Regions from separate parts of the Homo sapiens genome. Here all the other regions are reported to be linked to region 4. Evidence: microRNA targets listed by miRTarBase, many of them from high-throughput screens and not tested one by one. Region 4 holds a microRNA gene; each other region holds the end of a gene's coding sequence.
What was found. Region 4 holds the annotated microRNA hsa-miR-891b (UGCAACUUACCUGAGUCAUUGA, at 1,688-1,709, shown strand). A microRNA usually pairs through its seed, bases 2 to 8, with sites in the 3' UTR of a target mRNA and lowers its output. Matches are read on the target gene's strand: a 7mer-m8 pairs with bases 2 to 8, a 7mer-A1 pairs with bases 2 to 7 and ends in A, and an 8mer does both.

Region 1: the mRNA of PTPRD is a reported target of hsa-miR-891b. Seed matches in the 3' UTR shown: 7mer-m8 at 1,656-1,662.
Region 2: the mRNA of GTF2H1 is a reported target of hsa-miR-891b. Seed matches in the 3' UTR shown: 8mer at 2,449-2,456.
Region 3: miRTarBase lists LACTB as a target of hsa-miR-891b. The part of its 3' UTR that is shown has no 7-base or 8-base seed match.
Region 5: miRTarBase lists ITGA2 as a target of hsa-miR-891b. Seed matches in the 3' UTR shown: 7mer-m8 at 2,137-2,143.

The regions. Positions count from the first base shown.
Region 1 is chr9:8,315,339-8,318,338 of GRCh38, forward strand. PTPRD (protein tyrosine phosphatase receptor type D) reads right to left here. Exons shown (of 46, transcript NM_002839.4): 46 at 1-2,604. The coding sequence ends at 2,536. Among named protein-coding and RNA genes, the nearest start is that of DMAC1, 520 kb to the left of the region's middle.
Region 2 is chr11:18,365,552-18,368,551 of GRCh38, reverse strand. It overlaps GTF2H1 (general transcription factor IIH subunit 1), which reads right to left. Exons shown (of 15, transcript NM_005316.4): 15 at 1,507-2,769. The coding sequence ends at 2,683. Among named protein-coding and RNA genes, the nearest start is that of MIR3159, 21 kb to the left of the region's middle.
Region 3 is chr15:63,141,479-63,144,478 of GRCh38, forward strand. It overlaps LACTB (lactamase beta), which reads left to right. Exons shown (of 6, transcript NM_032857.5): 6 at 1-583. The coding sequence ends at 327. Among named protein-coding and RNA genes, the nearest start is that of RPS27L, 14 kb to the right of the region's middle.
Region 4 is chrX:145,998,180-146,002,808 of GRCh38, reverse strand. MIR891B (microRNA 891b) reads left to right here and starts at 1,678; the gene lies at 1,678-1,756.
Region 5 is chr5:53,090,267-53,093,266 of GRCh38, reverse strand. ITGA2 (integrin subunit alpha 2) reads right to left here. Exons shown (of 30, transcript NM_002203.4): 30 at 1-2,748. The coding sequence ends at 2,668. Among named protein-coding and RNA genes, the nearest start is that of MOCS2, 18 kb to the left of the region's middle.

The DNA of each region.
Region 1 (3,000 bases), not on the chromosome of region 4:
GTTTCAGGGAGAGAAGCTGCTCATTGGCCAATCATTCTGGTGTGCAGTGCTCCATCGGATTCTACATGTCCAACAAGGCATGTCTGGATGATGCAATGTCTGTCTGACCCCCTTTGTTTAACTAAAAGAAAATTATAGCACTGAGTAATCTGGCACTTGGATAAATCTCCAAAAAGATACAAACTAAAAGAAAATAATGATAACAGACCCACATAGTGCACATTCTTCTCTGGTTCTGATGTAGGTTAGAGAGTCTCATTCTGAGGTAGCCTTCTAGATACTTTTTTTTAGTATTATATATATTTTCTTTTTTTTCTTTTTCTTTGTTTTTTACAAAAGTGCTCAAATACAATGCTTGCAAATGTTTGGTCTCTTGGATTTCACTCTGCTAGCAATGGGAAAATGTGGAAAACAAAAATCCTTCCATGCAGAACATCCATGAAGCTAAAATTAAACCAAAGTAGTATACTCATACCAAAACTCTTTAAGAGTTCCTTGGGTATTTTGAGGATTATTTAAAATCATGTAATATGTGGCAAACTTATGCCATCATCCATGGCTTCCTATAGAAATTCTGTTGGAAGAATTGGGGGTAAGATACATATATATATATAGTTTATTTCCCCTTTTAGAAAAATCCTAATGGAATATCAAATATATTCCAAAGTTGCCAATGATATTTGTTACTAAAATAAGTTTGGTGCAGTTACTGCATGTTCCAGAGCGGATTTGGAAGGGAATATAAATAAAACAAGTAGCTTTTTCTGATGTTGATGATTGATTATAAAAGGAAGAAGGGCCCTGATTATCCAAGTGCTTTGGGCTGGTACAATCACTAACATCCCCGACTTGGCTGAAAACTAGGAATGCATATTATTCAAAGAGTTTTTGTACATGTGGTAAACAGATAATGCTTTAATAGAAAGTAACAGATACGAACAGTGAATGGAAATACGAACCAAAAGCTAAAAAGAAATGCTATTAAAATAGGCATCAATTATAAGGCACTCTAAATGCAAAACTAAAACCAAAACGAAACAAAGTACAGCACTTCCCAGGAATGCTGTATGCCACAAAATGTTTCTGACTGAACAGAGTAACATGAATTTGGCTTTGCCCCTGTTACATATCATAAATGCAAATTTCATAGCACATACTATAGACAATATACGATTGAATACACTTTTTTTAAACAACTCGATAGCTGATATATTACAACATTCTCCCCTCCTAAAGGGATATGCACTGACCTTTCCCACATGCACACCTCTTAGCTATTTAATAATAATTTTTATTGCACTAGAGTGTTAGAAATATTGAACTTTGTTGGAAGCCTGACTAACAAACAAACAAAACAATTTGTGGATGTGATTGATTGGTTAGGTGGGGGTAGATTAGGTAGGAAATCAGGGGGTGAGGTTTGACAATCAATCACTGATGTGCATTCCTCATTTCCCTTTAAAGAAATACCAATATGTCAAAAAATTAAGAATAAATGGAAAGAGATGTTTACAATAGCTTTTCTACGTTTAAAAAAACTAAATCATGGAAGAACTGACTGACTGATAACTGTATCTATTTTTTGTGTGGACACACTGTCTATATATACATAGACACCCTTATAAAATATGGATATATATGTATATATGTTAGCAGCAACTTTATACTTTGCGCCTCCCTGTTGATTCCAAAAACAAAACAAAATAATAATTATCTTTGATTATTTGAAGAGAATGGGTACTTTCTCACCAATCAAAACTGAAGTGTAAAATTAATATATCTGACGAGACTGATACTGTAGATTGAGTTTTGCACAAAAATGTGCAAATTTTCAAATGATTTGATATTTCTACAGCAAGATATTACAGATAACAGTTCTACAGCTTAAAAAAACCTACGATTTGGAAATAAAAAAATGAAGAGTTATGTAACTTTTTTAAAATTCACTTTATCGAATGATACATTTTGTTAAAAAAAAGTTTACACAGTTAGAAATGAAGCACAGGTCAGCAGTATCTTTACAATACTAAAAAACTAAATCAAGGACTTTCTTTTTAAACATTCCCTCCCCTTTCCCCCTAAAATGTTATTATGAGCAGTATGGTGGGAAGGGGCGATGTCAAAGCAGAGTCCGTTTCATTGTGAGAAGCCACACCAGCACATATCTTGTGCTGAACTGCAGCATTCTGGCAATTTCTCCTTGCACCTTTCAAGCAATCCTGAATAAGATGGTGGTTCTTTGCTGTGATTTCTTCTTCCCTTGATTTTGAATCCTTGAGGTATCTGTAAATAAAATCCTTCAGATGCCTCATCAGTCAGGATTCTCTTCATTATTTTTCAGGTTAGATTATTAAACTGTGAATTCTTGGTCCACCTGGAATAATTTGTTTTTAATTTGTTTTGTGTGTAATAGTCCCACTAAGTAGTTGTTAGCTAGAAGTTAAGAAGGACTTCTCAAGTGCCCTGTATGGCTCAGAAGAGACTCCATGGATATTGAAGGGCCTGTAGTAAAAATCCAGAATGGGTCAGGGGTTTCTACGTTGCATAGTGGTCAAAGCTGCCCAGGTACTCTAGTGCGGCACGATAGGAAAACTGATATTGATCCTGCAGGAGACAATGAATGGGGAGAAGCAAAAGAAGGGACCATGAGCATATTTTAATAGAAAAATAAAAATCAATATTGCATAACAAAATAACATCTATATAGGGGCAAAATCACTACTTTCGTCAACTGGTCTAATCCAATGACCAATTGTTTATAGTGAACAAAGAAAAAGCCACATGGGGTGTTGATTAACTTTGCCAATCAATTTGACTAAAACGATCTCCCAATTCCAAGCAGTGGCAGGTCGAGTGAACATTACCTTCCCAGACAAGTGTTTTCCAAGTAGTATCAAACCATTACCACCAATTGAACACATAAACTTCTTACATGCCTTATAAGCAGATAATGATGAAAATCATCCTTTACAATTATCTGCTTATTCAAGATAACTAATT
Region 2 (3,000 bases), not on the chromosome of region 4:
CCGCAAGAAGGTGAAGGGCCATAAAAGGCCTATACAGCTGCTGAAGTTCATTGCTAAAGGTATCCAAGGCTCAAATATTTCAAGTGCAAGCTAGACATGAAATTCACAGCTATCTCTGTGAATCACCCTTGATTCCTTCACTCCCTGTGAGTTAGTCACATACACTGTAGAAATGCTGTTACTCAGGCCCTTCCTATTTACCAGGACTTCATTTTAATGTAGACGCTTTCCTGTGTGGTTTGTTCAGAAAGTCTTCTAAATCTGTCCTAATTGCCAAGTTATTTAACCCCTGCCTAACCCCCCACCACCAGAAAACCCCCCCATAAAAGCAACTTGCTTAAAACTTTCTCTCAAGTCTCCCATGCCTAGTAGGTAAGGTCTGAGTATTTTACTTTAGCATACAAGGCCATTCACAACCTGAATTAACATGGTTTTCTGAGCCTTACTTGTCACTTCCAACTCTCCAATCTAACACATCTTTCCTGTTCTTCTAACATATTTCAGTCTTTCAAACCTTCTCATCATCATGCTCTTCCCTCAGTCTAGAAGAGATGACTTTCTTCTCTACCTCACAAAATCCTACTCAACCTTCAAGACTTAGCTAAAACGCTCTTTTAAATGAAGTCTTTCCTTCAGGCTTTATATATATATATATATATATATATATATATTTTTTTTTTTTTTTTTTTTTTTTTTGAGACAGGGCTTTGTCTTACTGTCCAGGCTGTAGTGCAGTGGTGTGATCATAGCTCATTGCAGCCTCAATCTCCTGGGCTCATGCAATCCTCCCGCCTCGGCCTCCAGAGCAGCTGGAACTACAAGCACATACCACCACGCCCAGCTAACTTTTTTTACTTTTAGTAGAGATGAGGTTTTGCTATGTTGCCCAGGCTGGTCTTGAATTCCTGAGCTCAAGTGATCCTCTTGCCTTGGCCTCCCAAAGTGCTGGATTACAGGTATGACTCACCATGCCCAGCTTACAACTTAATTTTCAACACAGCACTCAACAGAACATTCTATTTCTTATGTCTGCCTTGCCCAATAGCCACTTTTTTTTATTTCAATCATTTTTCTATTTGCCCCACTGTAGCAGTAACACATTTGAAAGTACTTTGTGAAAGTGTAAATTTTAAGGGATTATACCAGTACATATACTGATCTGAAAGAGAAATGGGAAGACTGAAGGCAGAAAATGATGTGGCTTCTTTCCCTTTACCAGTTCAAGGTCTTCATAAATTTTTCTTTTTTTTTCTGTAAAAAAAGAGATGGAGTCTCACTATGTTGCTCAGTCTGGACTTTTGAACTTCTGGGCTCAAGTGATCCTCCTACCTCAGCCTCCCAAGTAGCTGGAACTACAGGCATGTGCTACCATGCCTGGCTTAGATTCTGACCTTAGCAGTCATTATATGAAGGATAACCAGTTTGTAACATGGCCTAAAATAAAATGAACAGTTCTCAGGCAGCCCACCCAAGGAAATTCACACATAATGAGAAACCAGAGATGTGTTAGAGTTAAAAGGGTAAGTATAAAAAGTTTTACTTTTTTTGTGTAATTTTTAATACAAGACATCTAAAGTCTTAAACATTAAGTTGATCCCATCAGGAACAAAATATGGCACGAAGTTCAGAAACAAGAACATCTTTTTTTTTTTTTTTTGCACTTAGGCTTTTCAGTCACTATGCAATGATTATCGATTCGCCAAGGACAGTAACAGTCAAATACTAGAGAAAAGGAGATAGGAGAAACATCTTTTATTTCTTCTAAAGAGGTGAAAATAAGATTTTTTTAATATTTCTCACTCATAAGATTTTTAAACTCTTAAAAATGCAATATCTTCTTTTCAAAGCACATGCCATCTTAAAAAAATCTTAGCAATGTACATTTGCACTCAAAGAAAAACATGCAGCGCCATTGTCTTCTGACAAAATTCTGCATTAAAAAACCCTATGCGACTTTCTGCAAATATATTCCCTCTTTATTATTCAGGGACTCCAAACCACAAACATTCAGTGCAATATTTATCGTTTCTTATTTCCGTAGGAAACACAGAACCAATGATGTCTTCTGACAACTGTTTCCTGATGGTTGAGCAACAGTCTCCCTTTGCTTTATTTTAAAGTACTTTTTTTAACTTGCTGATGTAAGGTATAATTGGAATTCATTAAAACTTGAGGATCCAATGGAGGGTGAAGAATGAAGGATGGAGGAGGAATACTTAAGGTCTACCCTGTGCCATAAACTTAGGAAAAAAATGTACACAGAAAAAAACGACAACCAAAAAACCTCAGATTTTATCAATGCACCCTTTAAAAAGTGTTTTTTTAATTTCTGAAAGCAGCTTAATGTGAATCAAAAGCAGTTCCTGAGCAACTGCAGTAAACAGTCTTTTAAAATATATATGTACATACACATGTACATATATGTGTGTGTGTGTATATATATATATTTGCAACTTAGCTCATTTGGTTCTGTCTTAATTTACCTCCCCAGCATTTAGTCCCTTCTTTCCTTTCAGTCTCCAATGTGCAAGTACAATAGCATCAGCTCTGGGAGTTGGCGTGGAGCAGATGTTTCTTATCACTCCTGTGAGGTCATCTGCTTGTCTGTCAGGCCAGGTTTCCAGAGTTGCTGCAGGTCATAGTTCTCTCAATCTCACAAAACCTGTAAGCATCATGGCCACCTCACGTTTTCTTCATCAGACGCCGTGACTGCCATGTGTGGAGCTTGTTGTAGGCTGTCTGGAGCATCTCTTCTATGTGACTTACCAACTGAAAAACACAGCAAGACACTTAACAACTGGGCAAAAGCAGGGGAAGTTAATCCTTCCAACCCAAATCTGGCACACACTTCAGAGTGTAGTTTCGGAGCTCCTCTGTATTTCCCCAGTCAATGAGGTAATGTGCAAGCCCTCTGAGAAGGTGCTGTCAGACACATTTTGTGTGGAAAGGAAAGACAGAAAGTAGGGGGCAGTGAAAAGGCTGCGGTTGTAATGGCTGTCC
Region 3 (3,000 bases), not on the chromosome of region 4:
ATGGTTATGATGTGGACCCCAGTCCCTAACACAGAGATGTCTTGGGATAAAGAGGGTAAATATGCAATGGCGTGGGGTGTTGTGGAAAGGAAACAAACGTATGGTTCGTGTAGAAAGCAACGGCATTATGCTTCACATACTGGAGGGGCAGTGGGTGCCAGTAGTGTCCTGCTGGTCCTTCCTGAAGAACTGGATACAGAGACTATAAATAACAAGGTTCCCCCAAGAGGAATCATTGTTTCTATCATATGTAACATGCAATCTGTTGGCCTCAATAGCACCGCTTTGAAGATTGCCCTTGAATTTGATAAAGACAGATCAGACTGATAACCTTAACACCATAGGTGCAAAATGAGTTGTTCTGAGGTTTTTTTGAAACATTAAAGTTCCAAAACATGACATTTTTAAGAATAAATTTGAAATAGAGTATAACTGAATGCAGAGAATTATGTACCTCTAATTGCTTAATTTTGTAATGGTCTTTTATTGTAGAATTGGTTCTTTATACTCAGGGAAGTAATTATATTGTTTTTACTTTTTGAAAAAAGTGTTAACTCTTGAAATAAAATATTCTGATAAAATATGTACTTTCTGCATGTGTAATACAGAGAAAATCTCATTCAACAGGAGCCTCCAAATATCCGAGGTTTTTTTTCTTTTCTTTTTTTTTTTTTTTTTTTTTTGAAATGGACTCTTGCTGTGTTACCCAGCCTGGAGTGCAGTGGTGTGATCTTGGCTCACCACAACCTCTGCTTCCTGAGTTCAAGCGATTCTCCTGCCTCAGCCTCCCAAGTAGCTGGGATTACAGGCACCCACCACCATGCCCAGCCACTTTTTGAATTTTTAATAGAGACAGCATTTCGCCATGTTGGCCAGGCTGGTCTCGAACTCTTGATCTCAGGTGATCCATCCGCCTCAGCCTGCCAAAGTGCTGGGGATTACAGGCGTGAGACACTGTGCCCAGCCCAAATATCCTTTTAATATGAGAGCAGAAACAAAAGCATGAGAAATGGTATATTAGTTATCCACTACAGCTTAAAAGAAACGTTCAGAGAAGGAATCGGGAAATCAGGAGCAATATAGTCACGTGGGTCTGGCGCGGTCTCTAATGAGGTTGCAGACAAGGTGTTATGATCATCTGAAGAATTCTCCAGGGCTGGAGGAAATGCTTCCACATGGCTTACTTGCATGACTGCTGGCAAGAGTCAGTTCTCTGGCTGGTGGGTGGCAAGGGGACTCAGTTTGTCACCACATGGACCTCTCTGTAGGGCTGCTTGAGTATCTTATGGTAGTTGGCTTCCCGCAGAGTAAGTGATGAGACAGAGAGTGCCAGGCAGAAGTCACTCTTTTATAAACTAGCCTCAAGTCACATACCATCACATTTGCCAAATTCCATGGGTTACATGGGGCCTAATAAATGTTGAAGAGATTATATACATTGTGAATATTAGGAGGCAGGAATCACTGGGTGTCAACTTGGAAGTTGGGTACCACAGTCTGACCTCTGGTCCCCAATGATTTATGTCCTTCCCAATGCAAAATACTCTTACCTCCTTTCAAATCCTCCAGAAGTTTCACCTTAATATAGCATCAGCTCAAAGCCCAGTATCTTATCATCTAAATCAGGTCAGGTGCAAGTGTGAATGAGGGCTCCTTGGGATGAGTTCCTTAGGTACAGCAACTCAAGTAGTTTCTCTTAAGACCTGTGAACTGTAGTTATTTGCTCCCCATATGTGTAACATACCGTAGCACAGCAGATATAGGATAATTGCTAGATACCGTCCTCTTCAAAAAGTAGGGAAGTGGAAGACATACAGGAGACTGGCAATTCTGAAATTCAGTCAGACAGAGGTTGGCAACTCTGATTAGTATTCAAGGCTTCAGAATAATTCTTAGTTCTTGGCTATGTTCTCTGGGCTCTTAGTTCTACCTTACGAGTTATACTTTTTCTTTTTTTTAAGAGACAGCTGTTCACCATATTTCCCAGGCTGGTCTTCAACTACTGGGCTCAAGTGATCCACCCACCTCAGCCTCCCAAAGTGCTGGGATTATAGGCATGAGCCACCGCACCCAGCCCCTGAGTTATACTTTTTTTAATTGTTCTTTTTTACTTTTTTTTTTTTTTTTTTGAGACAGGGTTTCCCTCTGTCACCCAGGCTGGAGTACAGTGGCACAATCTCGGCTCACTGCAGCCTTAGCCTCCTGGGTTCAAGCAATTCTCCCACCTCAGCCTCTCGAGTAGCTGGGATTACAGGTGCGTGCCACCACTCCCGACTAATTTTTGTATTTTTAGTAGAGACAGCGTTTCACCATGTTGGCCAGGCTGGTCTCGAACTCCTGACCTCAGGTGATCCGCCCCCCTCGGCCTCCCAAAGTGCTGGGATTACAGGCGTGAGCCACTAAGCCTGGCCGCTTCCCCATACCTTTTTTTCATGAAAGGTAGCGTATCTTTCTAGCTGAGTGGTTTTCTCAGTGTGCTTTCCACTTGTAGAAGTTTGGAGACCCAAAGGCCTTTTTATACTCTCTTTCCTTTCCATCTAAGTTAACAGTGGTTCTGCCAATATAATATTTTATTTCTCTAATTTTTGAATTTTTTTTAGCAACCCTATTAACTGACAATATAATATTTTAAAATGTTAAGAGTATCCTGTGAATTTTATTGGGGTTTATGCCAGTAGACAAAAGCCACCCCAAAGTCCCTTCAGAATATCCCCTCTCTAACTTGGGGCTTGTCTCTGCCAAGATAATGGGAAGAACTAATTACGCTAATAATCTAATGAACTCTATTGTTTAAATAGTTCTCTGAAGCACCATGTTGATTCATTTTGAAGTCTTGAGAAAGGATTGTATAGTCATGCCCTCAATATCATCTTTAGACTATGTTTTCCTGGAAGTGCCCTCAATTATTATCTTTGCCTTGAAGCCATTTCTTAATTTTGGCATCATTTGCAATCTGAAGAGTCTGGGAATTTTTTAAACCATCAATTATTAATTCTTTAC
Region 4 (4,629 bases):
ATATTCAATATTCAAATGTATTAATTTATTTCATTCATCTTTCTTAAATGTTAGCTTCCTAGTCTTTTTTTTTTTTTTTGAGACGGAGTTTCACTCATGTCACCCAGGCTGGAGTGCAATGGTGCGATCTCGGCTCACTGCAACCTCTAGCTCCAGGTTCTAGGGATTCTCCTGCCTCAGCCTCCCGAGTAGCTGGGATTACAGGCACCCGCAACCATACTCAGCTAATGTTTGTTTTTTTAGTAGACACAGGGTTTCACCGTATCGGCCACTCTCAAACTTCTGACCTCAGGTGGTCCACCCACCTCGGCCACCCAAAATGCTGGGATTATAGGTGTGAGCCACCACGCCTGGCCCTTAGTCGTTTAAAATTAAGAAAAATACTTATCCAAGCAAACCTATGTTATGTCTAATAAAGGAAACCAAATAGTTTTGTGTCTATATGTGTGAAAACTTTATTTATCCTACCAATTTTTGATTGATTTCTGTTTTGAATACAATCTTATTTTTGCTGTATGATTGTGGCTGGAAAACAGGCAAAATAACTTTGTCATTTTTTGTCTTTTATTCTTGCCTCATTTCCTTAGCTGTCAACCAGTTCTCTTCATTTTTCAGATAATTCCATAAAGATAACAACCTCCCTCTGTATAATGAATTGCAGTATTTAATAAATAGCCTGCATAATCAGAGTTGTTAAGTCACCAAGAGTTACTTCTAATTGTAGAACTCACCTATCACATCATGAGTTTTATGAACTGTCAGCTCAATATGGGTTTTCCAGCCATTTGCTTCATTTAACATGTCATATCAGCCACCAGTTATTTTTGGAAACTGAATTTGTAAGCCATGATTACCTTGTGTTGATTATTATTATGTAACTGTTAAGAATACCATTTAGGAACTCCTGTGGTAGATTCTCCACATATTTTTCTTTGTATAACTTTTTATTCATATCTTTGATCTGCATTAGAAAATAAGCATTAGAAGAATTTTATCATAGTTCTTTTAAAATAATATAAAGAGTGTTAGGTATGGACAGGCAATGAACTAGAAATGAACAATACAGGACTTACTCATTATTAATGTGGATAAAGTCTGAGTTACATAATCCCTTCAATTTCGTGTATATGTGCTTTTGGGGACATTTTCTTATTTCTGCATGGATATCTGTGAATATATGTATATACATGTGTATATTTTTAGGGAATTTTAACTTTTGAACAAGTCTTCACACAATTATTGCTGGTGGTTTGAGGAAGGTTGTCATTCTTTTTAACCTGTCCTTTTTTCTTCCCACTTTAAACTATCTGTTAGTTGTCGCATTTTACATATTTGTGGGTGGGGAATCAGTGTCTATATATTTAGACTGAACTCAATACAGACAGCCTCATTCTGTACCATAATCTGTGATTTGCAAATTTTGAGACGTCACAATTATAATGGATTGGTAGAGCTTTACTGCCAGCCCTTTCAAGATTTTCATCCTCCAACTGCAGCACCGGTAAATTATTACTAATAGAAATGAGAAAGAAAATATACATGCTGATAGCTACATAGGTCGTGAATAGTAAATTAGTATGTCATTTATTTTAGGTATTAAATGTTTCATAGTCATACTATAATTACGTAGCTTCTTTGTTTCTTTGTAGGTCCCAAAAGAGTCTACAAATGTTGTCTCCTTAATCCTTGCAACTTACCTGAGTCATTGATTCAGTAAAACATTCAATGGCACATGTTTGTTGTTAGGGTCAAAAGAGATAATCCATCTAAAGGCCTCATGGACATTGCAAACCATGTAAGTCATCAGTTATGTAGCTACTGCTGCTTTTCCTTCACCTCCTTGTAGTGATACTGGTAGTAGAGTAGTCGTACTAGTAGAGACTATATTACTAGTACTTTGGTAAAAATAAGAGCATGTTCAATAAACACCTTTTATTAGGTCAGACTGGAGGACGTATAGCAGCAAGATGAATTTCTTCTTATTTTCTGTTTTTCTGAGGTTAATGTGGATGGTTTCTGTGAGGTTAACACTGCGTAGCAGTCTTAACTTAATGTTGTTCTATGATCACATGATTATCTGTGATTACTATGCTTATCTGTATATTTCTGGTTTTTTTCCATTTCCAAATGTATGTTCTACACATGTCCTCAATCACCATGACAAATCAAAACATTAGGATACTGTCTCTTTGGTACTGATTTGTCGTGTGTATGAAATGTGGAAATCCATATGAAAATCTGAACTACATATCTGCCAGACATGTAATCATTCAGCAGATTTTCCTGTTAGTACTACTGCAAGCAGTACTAATACTATAACTAATGGTATCAGTCCTAGTAACACTGCTATTACATTAGTACTAAGAAGCATATCATCAGTTATCACTCAAAGGATTTCATTGGTGGTTTTTCATATACATATTGTAATGTGTTCTGCTTTGTTCTGCTTTATTATTCATTTTACATATTTTTCTAGAATACTCTGTGGATATCTATGCCTGCAGAGATAATTTACTTGCAGTGCAAGCATTGAAGCCACTGCAAACACAGGTAAGGGGAAGTCAATGGTTGAAGATGACAGACTCCTGATTTTACTCATCCATGATTGCAAACTATAAAATATTATGTCCTTACCTGATTTCCTTACTTTAATTTGGTATAATTCTTGCACAGAAATGGTGAGTGGGACATTCTCATCTGGTTCCTGATCTCAGGCGTCAAGCATAAGAACGTTAACAATTAAGTCTTAATTTAGCTGTGTTTTTTCATAGATGCCATTCAAGCAATTGAGGATATACTCTGTGCTATGCCTGATTTGCTGTTATTATGTTTCAGATATGGATGTTAGATTTAGTCACATATCTCCCTGCATCTAGTGAGATGGTCTCTTTTTTCCATTTTAATCTGTTAATGTTGAAAATTGCCAGGCTTTGCCTGGGTTCCCATTCTCTGCACTGGAGTCGATATTCTCTCTCTGAGAAGTTGGCAGGAGAATGGATGGACTGTTCTAATGTGTCCCCTCTCTCACAGATCACTCTACAGTGTCTGAAGGCAAGCTTTTCTGTATATATCTGGGTTTTATGTTGTTTTAGACACCAGATAAATTTGGTCACTGTTCCTCCATCTGATCTGGAAACTGTAGTCTCCACTTACCAAATGGTAGGAGCCTGGAAATCCCTAGACATGTAGAGGCTTATGTACAAGAAGCTCATAATTTTTACATATTATCTATTCCTTACCACCTTACCTCTGATATGGCTCATTATTTTTGAGACCATTCCAGTTGTATGATTACAAGACTAGGATTTTAAAATAGTTTTCAGTAAAGCATTGCACCACCTAATTCATCTGGTAAGGGGTTTAAGTCCTTAGCAATCCTGAAGTCTCCTCTTGGAAGGGTTTGTATTTTCCAAGAACTGAGTATGCGGTTGGGCACTTCTACAAATCCATCTTTCTTTTTTGATAAAATTCTTATTTTTCTAATATTGATTGATGGCTAATGCTGACAGTTTGTGGAGGTATTTAGTGTAGTATCTCTTTGTTTTCTCCCAACCTTACTAATCTAGTGTTTTGGGTTTTTTTGGTTTTTTTTTTTTTTTGAGATGGAGTCTCGCTCTACCACCCAGGCTGGAGTGCAGTAGCCCATCTCTGCTCACTGCAAGCTCCGCCTCATGGGTTCACACCATTCTCCCACCACAGCCTCCTGTGTAGCTGGGACTACAGGCACCCGCCACCACGCCGGGCTAATTTTTTGTATTTTTTTTAGTAGAGACGGGGTTTCATCGTGTTAGCCAGGATGGTCTTGATCTCCTGACCTTGTGATCCGCCCACCTCAGCCTCCCAAAGTGCTGGGATTACAGGCGTGAGCCACCGCGCCTGGCCAAATCTAGTGGTTTTAATGTTTTAATCAATCTAGATAGACAGTGATATCTCCATTTTTAATGCATTGCTGTATTAAAGAAATTCTCATTCCACATCATCACAGTCAGTATGTCCCAAGCGAGGCACTTAGGAGAACTCTGCCTTCCCATCATAAATCTGAAAGTACCTGCTGCCAGCTGTTCCTGTATTGCTCTCTCATGCATCAGAATTATCAAGATCTCGGGACCATTTGGTGTAAAGAAAGACAGTTAATAGCGCTGGTGAATTATACGTGATAGAACTACCCACATACTTATAGATGGTTAAGTAGGTTGTAAATAGGAAATTTCATAGGTAATTTTTCTTCTCTAGATGTGCCTTTTATGTTGCCATAAGCATAATATCTCCTGTGTTATATTTGAGGATCCAAGCGTATCTTCACATGTTTTTTCATTAATCTTCATGACAAATCCGTGTCAGTATGTAAAAGATTGTGAGGACATATGAGAAGATTCACATAAAATTCCCAAGTACATTGATGTGGTGTAAGTGAGCATTTCAGAAATATAAATTATTGTTGTTGCTCTTGTCCTTTTATTTGTATTTACCTTTATTTTTTCACATAACTTATGAAATAAGGCAATGAAATATAAGGAGATACATAGTAGTCTCTGACTCCATGCCAACTGGTGTATTCAGTGCTTGTTCTTGCGTGGTAAACAGCTTATCATCATCTGTGTGAGATAAACATCCTAAGGCCAATGCAAG
Region 5 (3,000 bases), not on the chromosome of region 4:
TTCAAGTTCCGTATATGTATGTTTAGCACTTATTTAAGGAAGTACTCACCTAAAGGAGGTGAGACAGAGTAAAAGGAAGGATGTGCTATAATTGTTTGTATAGCACATTGAAAAGCTAGTATTTACATATACAGTACTAACTTTTTTTTTGTTTGTTTGTTTGAGACAGAGTCTTGCCCTGTCACCCAGGCTGGAGTGCAGTGGCGCGATCTCGGCTCACTGAAACCTCTGCCTCCCGGGTTCAAGTGATTCTCCTGCCTCAGCTTCCCGAGTAACTGGGATTACAGGCACCTGCTACTACGCCCAGCTAATTTTTATATTATTAGAGATGGGGTTTCACCATGTTGGCCAGGCTAGTCTCAAACTCCTGACCTCGTGATCCACCGGCCTCAGCCTCCCAAAGTGTTGGGATTACAGGTGTGAGCCACCGTGCCTGGCCACATTGTCTTTTTAAATAGTCATTTTTTTGAGACAGGGTCTTGCTATGTTGCTTAGGCTGGACTTGAACTCCTGGGCTCAAGCGATCTTCCTGTCTCAGTCTCTCAAGTAGCTGGAGCTTCAGGTACACACCAGCACCACTAGCTGTTAAATATTCTTTATCAAGCTAATGACTAGTTTCTCCAGTCTTTTTTTTTTTTTTTTAAATAAAATTTTGTTGGAATGAAGCAGCAAATTCTCACAGCTGTTAAAAGAATTGGACTCTGGCATACCTAACTGGAGAATACCATGCTGTTTTTTCTATAAACCGCTGGCATTTTATGCCTTTTTTGTTTGTTTTGTGTTGTCAACTACAAAGTAATTCTGTAAACAGTACAGATAGCCCTGGACTGCCACCACGGGCCAGGCCAGGGTAGTCAAGGTTGTCCATATGCACATGGGCAGATAACCTGTTTTCCTTTGACATTTTTTTCCAAGTCAAATTCTTGGAGGATTGTGTATTTGTATTATAGGAAGTCCAGATCATAGACTTTTAAAACTAAAAGCATCACTGCTGAACTCCAGCTCAGTCTTCCCATTTTATAATGAGGACTCTGAAGTTTATAGAGGTCAAGGACTTGTCCAAAGCTTTAGATATGTAGTGTCTGTGCCCTTTTCCTCTAAGTTTCTCCTAGAGAATGTGGGGGCTCAGGAACAGAGAAAATAAGGTGCAAAAAGTAGAAATGGGTGGTGTTTCTCAAAGTGTGGTCCATCTGCATCCTAGTGACTGGGGTGCTTGTTAAAATGCAGATTGCTGGGCCTTATCCCAATCTGACCAAATCATCTCAGGATCTACCTTTTGAACAAACTTGCCTAGGTCAAATTCACTCTTGTGGAAGTTTAAGTACTTCAGAAACAAGACAGCCACAGAAGGTGCACCTGCTAATTTGGTGGCTTCCAGTGCCTCATCTGTAACTTCTGGTGAAATCCTGAGATGTCTTACTTTACATTGTTTACATCCCATAACATTCCAACATTTAGAAATTCACTCGAGCTTATTTTTCTTACTTGTTTAGCACTAAATGAAAATAGCTCCCTGAAGTTAAGGAGTTTATATACAGTAATTCATGCAAGTGTGTAAATTAAACAGATGACTTTCCCCCCTAATATCTAATGCACAGCAGCTGTCCTGAAGGAGTGGGAACTTTGGATGAGGGGTAAAGGAGGGGATAACTTTGGACCGCTGGAGAGAAAGTCAGGCTGTAGAGGGCTTCTATAATAATGGTACCACCAGGAGGTGGGAGAGTGGTTCAGTAAGGGAGGAGGAAGGTTGCCAAAGAAATTACTCATCTTTCAGAAATTCACTAGGTTACTGCCAGTCAGCCAAACAAATCCTAGAAGAGAACTGTTGTGCCTCCTAAAAGAGAAAGGAAATTTCCTCCTTTTCCTTCCTCTGGCACAGGATGGGCTTCTAGCAGATGGGATTTTACATGTTATATTCTGAGTTTTAAACAAAATTTTGTGCCTTATTCTCTATATCGCCCCCTCTCCTAACTTAAATGGACATATAGGAGGTATACTCTAAGCTCAGTTATTCAAGCATGTTTTGATCATTAGAGCAAGATGGGGTGTGGAAGGGGCAGCCGTGGTCTAAAAGGAACCAACAACAAATTTTACCTAGTTTATAAATAAAATTATCACTTGGAAGTATCATCTGTGGCAACTTTGGATGAGCAGCATAAATTGAAAAAACCTGTGTTTTGTTTTCCCCTCTTGTTAACATCAATATTCATTAAAATATACACAAGTGGAAGTACTTACATATCAAGCACTTCCACTTCTGTAGTTGCTGTTTAAAGACAAATATTTTAAAGAGAACAGTTTTCCCCCTTAAAATCTGAGAGTATCATATTTTTCTTTAAAAGTTGTCATGCTTGGAAGCATTTCATGTTTCTGACACAATGCAAATTAGAATGTAAACTCTGGGCCAGCCAGTTTAAAGATTACTTTTTTTCCCCCATCATATAAAATAGGTATTTTCCCTATTATTTCCCTACCTGCCCCCCGCACCTCCCCCACCCCCCACAATTTCTTCATTCCAAACTGACCTGCAGTTTTCTCTTAAAATACCAGGTTAGTTTACCTACGACATGATAAAAAAAATATGGGATTTAAAAAGAAATCCATTCACGCAAACAGCAAACCCTGGCTGGGATGCTGCCGGTTCCCACTGCAGGTAGGTCTGCTGGTTCAGCTACTGAGCTCTGTGGTCTCATCAATCTCATCTGGATTTTTGGTCATCTTTTCATATTTTCTTTTGAAGAAGCCGAGCTGTAAAGGTGATGATATAAGAATGTTACCACCCGTGGCTTATTTTGTAAGGTGCCTCTGACCCCCTTGGCTGCCCACGTCCTCTGATGCACCTCTGGGAATCCCTGAGGCTCTGAAGGGAGGTGTGCAGACTGATGACCTGATATCTACCACCTGCTAGAAGGAAATTTATATCCAGAGAGCTCAGCTGCATTGCATAAAGCTACATTTTTCAGCGTCTACTTATTTGAAGCTGAACAAAACATTCAGGGC